2 linked regions of the Homo sapiens genome follow. The protein of the gene in region 2 purifies or fractionates together with the protein of the main gene of each other region. This does not show direct contact. Each region holds a gene or a part of one and is shown on either strand. Other genes may lie near its edges. The genes, in order: ITPR3 and DYNLT5.

What was found.
Region 1: the proteins of DYNLT5 (region 2) and ITPR3 purify together in Homo sapiens (affinity purification with mass spectrometry; one large-scale study listed by BioGRID and IntAct). This does not show direct contact.

What each region holds. Positions count from the first base shown.
Region 1 is NC_000006.12:33,683,509-33,687,321, reverse strand, and holds part of ITPR3 (inositol 1,4,5-trisphosphate-gated calcium channel ITPR3), read right to left. Parts: intron 3,303-3,813; coding exon 3,154-3,302; intron 2,966-3,153; coding exon 2,857-2,965; intron 2,725-2,856; coding exon 2,634-2,724; intron 2,549-2,633; coding exon 2,379-2,548; intron 1,964-2,378; coding exon 1,789-1,963; intron 1,680-1,788; coding exon 1,495-1,679; intron 1,270-1,494; coding exon 1,069-1,269; intron 914-1,068; coding exon 803-913; intron 314-802; coding exon 218-313; intron 97-217; coding exon 1-96.
Region 2 is NC_000001.11:66,750,791-66,754,703, reverse strand, and holds the start of DYNLT5 (dynein light chain Tctex-type 5), read right to left. Parts: upstream 2,246-3,913; 5' UTR 2,120-2,245; intron 49-2,119; 5' UTR 46-48; coding exon 1-45.

The sequences.
Region 1 (3,813 bases), on a different chromosome or scaffold from region 2:
CGCCAGGATATAGATGTTATGGCCCACTTCACGTGGGCTCACCTCCGAGTTCTCACGCTCTTCCTCCTGCAGGTAGGCCTTCTTGATGACGTCCACCTGGAGGGGCAGTGCCTGTTCCAATGCTCTCTTCCTAGGGCGGTAGGGCCAGCCGGGCCCTCATCCCCATCCCAACACACTCCACCTGGTTCCGCCCGCCTGCCCACCTGCCCAGCCTCACCAGCTCCTGGGGCCGCAGGCTGATGAGGATTCGCTCAGCATTTTCACTGTCATGCCGGCTCTCCATCAGAGCCAGGAGCAGCTTGGAGGCATTGTCCTGGGTGGAGGGGCAGAGGGAGGCAGGCCACAGTCTCAGGACACCATGCCCCTGACAACTTCTCCCTCATTCCTCTCCATAACAGCTCTCCCATCCAACAAAAGGTCAGGTGCCATGACCTTCCCATCCTCCCTCCCCCCGGCTTAATGAGAAGCATCCTGCACAGCCAGCCCACCCATAGGCTTGCCTTCACCCCCGCTGTGGCAAACACTCAGCTACCCAGACAGCAGACACACACATAGCAAGTCCTCAGCTAAACCAGAATATATTTGCATCCAGAGTGAGTGTATGTTCCAGCATGCTTAAACATGCGTATATTACACACACACCCTGCACACACCACACACTTGTGCATCCAGATGATGCCCCATCACACAATGCTAACACCCACATTACACACCACTATGTACACTTGACACACAAGTCACACATACATGCATGCACATCACATGCACACCCAGCACTCACACACCTGCCACTGGGCCCCACCTTGAGCTGCAGCACCAGATCCATGCGGTACTTGCACAGGGGGCTGATGTCATTGAGGATCAGTGCGGTGATGATGTCTATGCCATTGGACTCGTGAGTCACAATGCAAGTCTGGCAGGAGGCAGTGGGGGACACAGGGCCCAGGCCCTCTCAGAATAGTGGCAGCTCCAGAGACCTCAGCCTCTCTCCCTGCCCCAGCTGGCTCCATCTACCCACATGTCCACACTGCCACCCTGGCTGCCACTTATGCCACCAGGACAGCTCACCTGGTTCTCATGGCAGGGGCCCTGGCAGTACTCAGTGAGGGTCTCCAAGGTCTGGATGACGAGGCCCACGTTGTCCTCATTGATGTAGAGCCCCAGCAGCCCCAGGCCGCCCGTGGTGCTGCCGCACATGATGTCCAGGAACTGCAGCGTCTCGCATACCAAGTTGTAGTTGGTTTTGTTGTTCTGACAGCGCAGGAAGTTCTGCGGGGCACAGAAGGGTTGGGCACAGCACAGCTACAGCACGGAGAGGGAGGCTGGCCTGGGAAGCACGATCTTGTGTGCTGCAGGGGTAGGGGAACCACCAGCCACAAAGCAGCAGTGCCCAGGGCAGGGCACACCTGCCATAGAGGGACACCAGCCACACTGCCTAGTCTGCATGCCGGCTGGCCAGCGGGGGAAGGGGCAGGTGTGTGGCGAGGCACTCACCTGCAGGTCCCGGTTGTGGTTCTCACACAGCAGCTGCAGAAAGCGCAGGATGGGCTGCATGATGAGCACGGATGTGCCCATCTCACTGCTCTGCACACGTTCGCTCACCTCGTGCCCCCGGCGCAGGCTGGGGCCCAGCGAGTAGCGGGATGAGGAGCCAGGTATCGAGAAGGAGGCCACGCGGCCTGTGGGCGAGACCTGGTGAGGCTGGAGCTGCCCACCCCCTTGGCCACCCCCCTGCACATCTTATCCTGGGATCCCCGTCACGCCGTGCCTCTGCCTCAGACCCCTGACCTTTGGTGGTGGGGTCGACTGGCTCGCGGTCCTCATGTGGCTGGCTGCCCAGGTCATTCATGTTGACTGCCACCGTGGACTTGGTCTCCTGCTGGGCCCGCTTCATGCGGTCGTGCAGCACCTTGAAGAAGCGCTCTGACTTCTTGTCACTCATCATCAGGTTGTGGAAGGATTTCTGGAGGTGGACAGTGGCCAGGGAACAACCTCAGCACTGGGCCCTGCTCCTACTCAGGGCGTGGGGCAGGCACACCACACTGCTGGGGCCGCTGGGGCTGCAGGGGCCTGGCTGCAGGCCTGGGTGCTGGTGGCTAGCATCCATGGCCACCCATGGGCGGCTCCATGCCCCATATCTGCTCCTGTGTCACGTGGTCCTTTCATCACCCCCGCATACCCCTCTGCCCCAGCCAGGCCTGAGCCCGTCTCCTCACCACCCTGCCCCCATCATGCCCACTCTTCTCACCTCTCAGCCACTGCTCAGGCCTCTCCTCTTTCACACCCTCCTCGGCCTTCAGTGCCCAACTCAAGGCCCACCTCCTCCAAAAAGGGAGGGAGGCAAAGGAGGGCATGTCCAGGCCCCAGGCCCCCCACACCTGGATCTCTGTGTTGCCACCATCCAGCAGGTGGATGGCCAGGCCGATGCTCTCCTGGAAGATCTTCTCGTTCTTGGTGCTGGTGATGAGGTCGCATACCAACTTGGTGGCCCCCTCCTTGTCCAGCCGGCACTGGGTGGCTGCGATTGCCGACCAGTCTGGGTCCAGGCCTGGAGGCGGGACTCGGTTGAGGGAGAGCTGGTGTGACAGGAGAGTGGAAGGGAGGGCCCGGGGGCAGGGGAAGGTGATACTGACCAGTGCCTATGGGGTCGGGAAGGTCCCCCCGCGAGGTGGACTTCCGGTTCTGGAGGTAGTTTTGCAGCAGCATCTTGCGCAGCTGGTTGCCCTGGGGGAGGATGGGAGTGAGGCCCCATTGTGGGTACAGCCCACCACTGACCACTGGCCTGACGGGCTTGACCCTGAGCCCCTGGGTACTCCTGACTGGCCCACCCAGCACTTGCCCCACCAGGGCACTCACCCGGTCCCCGTACTTGGTCTTCTTGAGCAGCATCTGCTGCAGGGTCCGCAGCACCTTGATGCACAGCTTCTCCTCCGACTCCATGAGGTCCTTGGTGTGCTGGATCAGCCTGAGCCGGCCAAGGAGGCAGCTCAGGGCAGCCCCACACTGCCTCCCTCCAGCTACTTCCCCACCCCATCCCAGGCAGGAACACCCCCAGGCCCTCTGACCCAGTGAGCCTGTCTAGTCCCCACCGGGCCCTTCTCTGTCCCCTGCCGCTGCACCCCTGCTGCCCCCATGCCCCAGTGTCTCGCTCACTTGGACAGGAAGCCCCCACTCTCGCAGCGCTGGTAGGCCTCACTGCCCTCCAGGAAGAGCAGCTCAGGCCAGTGCAGGACATCCACCAGCACGGACAGCTCAGCCTGTACCAGGGGCTTCAGCCGCTCCTCCAGGGCTGTGATGATGTCCTGGGGTGGGCAGGGCAGAGTCATTGCCAGGCCCAAGAAATGACCCGGGTGTGACTGCCATTCCTCCGACCCAAACGCCAAACAGCCCCACAGATTGCCCTGCCTCTGTCTGAGGGGCCCACACCCACAGAGACACCCTGAACACAGCGTGATGTCTGTCTGCTCAGAGCCCTGGCTGGGAGCTGCCAAGCCTGGCTTCTCTCCCAGCTCTGTGTGACCTTGGGCAAACCCCTTAGCCTCTCTGAGCCTCAGTCTCCTGCCACGTGGGGAAAATAATCCACCACACCCCCTCTACAGGCCAACGAGACAGCGCACAGAAATGTGCTGCATAGACAGGAGGGCGCTGCAGGAGTGAGGGGTGGTCCCGACCCCCTCATGAGCTCCAACCCCACTAGCAGGCCTCTGGGTTCTCCAGGCTTCCTCTGGAAGGAGGTTCCCCAGTCCCTTGCTGCTGGGTCGGCCCTTAGCAGCCCCAGAGTGTAGAGAAGCCAACCAGCCCCTTCCTGGAAGT
Region 2 (3,913 bases):
CCATGAATGAGCTGCTCTGCCTTTAGCATTGTCTGACATCATCATAACCTATGGAAGAAGACTTTTGTAAAATAGCAAAAGAAAGATCCGGAAACATTTTAGTTAGTATAACAGGGACTAATCTCAAAGTACACAGATAGTTTTCCTACCATTTTTGAACAGGAAAGTGGGGTTTCCTCAAGAGCAATATATAGAATTTGTTGTTATTCTGATCAGTGAAACTGGAACTATGATAACTCTGAAAATGCTTATTTATGCAATAGTATAATTATTTACATAAGCAGATATTAAGCTATAGCAAAAATGCTTAGCTGATGAAGACGGAGGTCATTGACAAAAGATATGCATGTATAGCAGAAAGATGCTATCCTACATCAGAAACCAATATTTGTATTGCCCCCCAAATGTAACCATAATACAACTTTGCTAATTAATATTTGCTGTCACTGTTATATTTTATTTTTGAGACAGGGTCTTGTTCTGTCACCCAGGTTGGAGTGCAGTGGCATGATCATGGCTCACTACTGCCCCAAACACCTGGGCTCAAGCGTTCCTCCCAACTCAGCCACCTGAGTAGCTGGGACTGCAGGTGTATGCCATCAAGCTGGGCTAATTTTTAATTTTTTGTAGAGATAGGGTCTATGTTGCCCAGGCTGGTCTTGAACTCCTGGGATCAAGCAATCCTGCTTCAGCCTCCCAAAGTGCTGGGATTACAGGCATGAGCCACTCTACCTGGCCTATTTTATTATTTTAGAGACAGGATCTAGCTCTTGTTACCCAGGCTGGAGTGCAGTGGCATGATCATAGCTCACCGTAACTTCAAACTCCTGGGCTCAAGCGGTCCACCCACCTCAGCCTCCCTAGTAGCTAGGACTACAGGCCTGCACCACCATGCCTAGCTAATTTTTAAACATTTTTGTAGAGACAAGATCTTTCTGTGTTGCCCAGGCTGGCCTTAATCTCCTGGCCTTAAGTGATCCTCCTGCCTTGGCCTCCCAAAGTGCTGGAATTACAGGCATCAACCACTGTGCCTGACCCACCATGACTTTAAAAAATAAAATTAGGGGTAGGGAGCTAGAAAATAAATAAATAAATAAAAATTAAAATTAACCTTGCTTTCCCAAAGATTTTTTGTTGTTTGTTTTGTTTTCTCGAGCAACATTTACATAGTTTGTAAAGAGCAAATAGGACTTAACTTTTAAATAAATAATTTATTGGAAAACTCCCTCCTTCCTACTAATACTTGTTAAAAAGCTGGTAGTAGCAATGGACTTCCCAGAACTTGGACTATAACTCTAATAATGCCCTCATTGTCTACCTACAAATTTAAGTATTCATTTAAATTATTTCATAATCTATAAATGTGAGAGCCCCGATAAGGAAATACTGTGCTAGACACCAAAGCATAAAAATAGAAGAGAATCCATGCCTTCAAGGAGCTGGCAGTTGAGTAGGTAGGGCACACAAGAACATACCCTAAAACCCAGTGGCATCAATGTCAGAGCAGAGGTGCTGTGTGTGGGTGAGGCAGGCAGCGTGGTGTGTGTGTGCACGTGAGTGTGAGCGTCCTTGAGTGTGTACCTGTGAGTGTGCATCTCTGTGTGTGCAGGTGCCTGTGTGTATAAGTGTGTCTGTGTTCGTGTGTACGAAGGTGAGTGTGTTTATGAGTGTGGAAAGACACACAGCCTGATTAGGTGGGTCATTCAGGTTTTGCTGCAAAGCCACATAGACCCATCTCGGCCTCAGCTGTTTCCAAAGCTGCCCTGCAGGCCGCCCCCTCCCCAAGAAAGGCCAGAGTTGGGACCTGGAGGTCCTCATGGGTGCGGCCAGCCACAGGAAGACCGCCCCGGGTCAGGGGATGACCTTGCTGGCCGGCTCTGCGTTGGCCATCACTCTTGAAGCCCAGCCCCCAGCCATGCAATGGGGCAGGGGACGAACCGTTGGGACCGACTTTCAGTTCCCAAATTTGGGATCATTTTTTCTTATGTGTTGGGGAGAGGAGGAATAAGGTGGCGGAGAGATCGGGGCCAAGTAGGGCCATTTCTCAACAAAGGGCCGATCCCTTGCCCCCTATCCTTCCTTTGGGGTCCAGACGCGCTGCAGAGAGAGGCGACCCTACCTGCAGCAGGGAGGCTTCGCCCGGAGCCTCCCAGACCTCCGGCACTGCAGACACTGCGCGCGGCGCGGCTCCCGCGTCCCAGGCTTCATTCAGCCGGCGGCCGCCCGCGCACTCTCCCTGGACTCTGAGGCCGGTCTCCAGGGTGACCTCAAACAGAGCCCTCGGCCCTCCCCGGCCGGACTTGGCCGCTGAGTGGCCCTCTGAGCTGCCCTAAGGATGTAGAGGATCTCATCTTCACTGCCCACTGGGGGTCACTCTGAGCCGGGCTGCGTCCTGGGTTGGCGGCGAGCTGGAGGGGAACTGGTTCATTGTGTAGCGAGGAAGACATTTGGGACTAAAGACATTTGCACCCCTAGGGCCCCTCATCAAGTTCCTTTTCCCGCAGACATCAGGGGCAGGAGTGGGAAGTGCTGCGGTTTCCTAGCACAGGAAATCCGAAGCGCAAAGACAAAGTAAAGTAGCCCTGCCCTTTTCCCGGCTCCTAACGCTGCTTCGCACGTTCCCCCTCCAAGGCACAGGCGGTGGAATGTGGAGGTAAATGAGCACTTACATTGGCCAGATACCCCAGATACCGACAAACATTGGGATTTAGTCGTCCCAATAACTCTGTCAAGAAAGGAATGTTTTCCCTTTAAAGGATTTGGAAAATTGAGATTCTAAAATGTTAAATAATATGCCCAAGGCCCCTGAAACTCATGGTCTTAACTCCAATGTGTTACAAACCGGGCTGGGTTCCTTCGCTTTCCTTAACAAGACTCTTCTGAGCCTGTTAATGTCTAAGAAGCTTTGAAATGAGGCTGTTTGGGGTTGAGGACCTACCTGCTGGTATGAATGGGCTTTTCCTCTTCTTCAGCGACTATCCCCAGCCTAAGCCTGGTTTGGGCCTCCCCAAACCAAAAGCAAACAAAATAAACACTATAGGGACCCTCCTGTAGTGGGCAATCATTGGAAGCAGAAACAAGATGCCTCCAAGCATCTAGCCAAGGGCATGGCTCTTGATGAGTGTCCTGCTGGAATTAGCATTAGCTGACAGTAATACATTGGGATTCCGGTGGAGCACAGTGTTAGGATAGTGTTGGAAGAAGAGAAATAGATATTTTTGCCCATCCCAATCTCTACTCACAGAAAGATAAGAACAGGAAAGGATTGTTGATTGAATATCTACTATGGACTAGATAGGAACTGCTAGGTGATGAATAAACATTATCTCATTGAATTTGTTCAGTGACTATGACATAGGGGACATTACTCTATTTTTTTTTAAGATAAGGAAATGTAGAATCGTTGAGTAACATGCTCAAGTCGATATTTAAATCACAGAGCTGAAATTTGTCTAACTCTTAACCCTTGACCTTTGACAGACCTTTGGCCCACCATCCCTACCCTAAACATGGAATGAAGTTTTCCAGAAATGCGGGTAAAATTTTAAGAGGCTGACAGCAAAAGATATTCACAATTCAATTTATTTTCATATTTTTCATTTATTTTCCAGAAAAAGAAATCACATTTCAGTAACAACTTACATATAGAATTAAACTTTGTTCTGGAATGGGAGCCCTAGTTGCAGTAACGTGTCATAATAAATAATTGCATATTCAGGATTTTGTGAAATAGGTGATTGGGAAAATTATGAACAAAAAACATTTACAAAAATTATTATTTACAAAGAGTGATATCCATACTATTTCTAACTTATAAGGCAAGTAATGTTAAGATGGTCTCATGATTATCTTCAACAAGTCAATTACACACTTTCCTGTCACCATTGCCCAGCAGAGAGCTTTGCTGCAATTC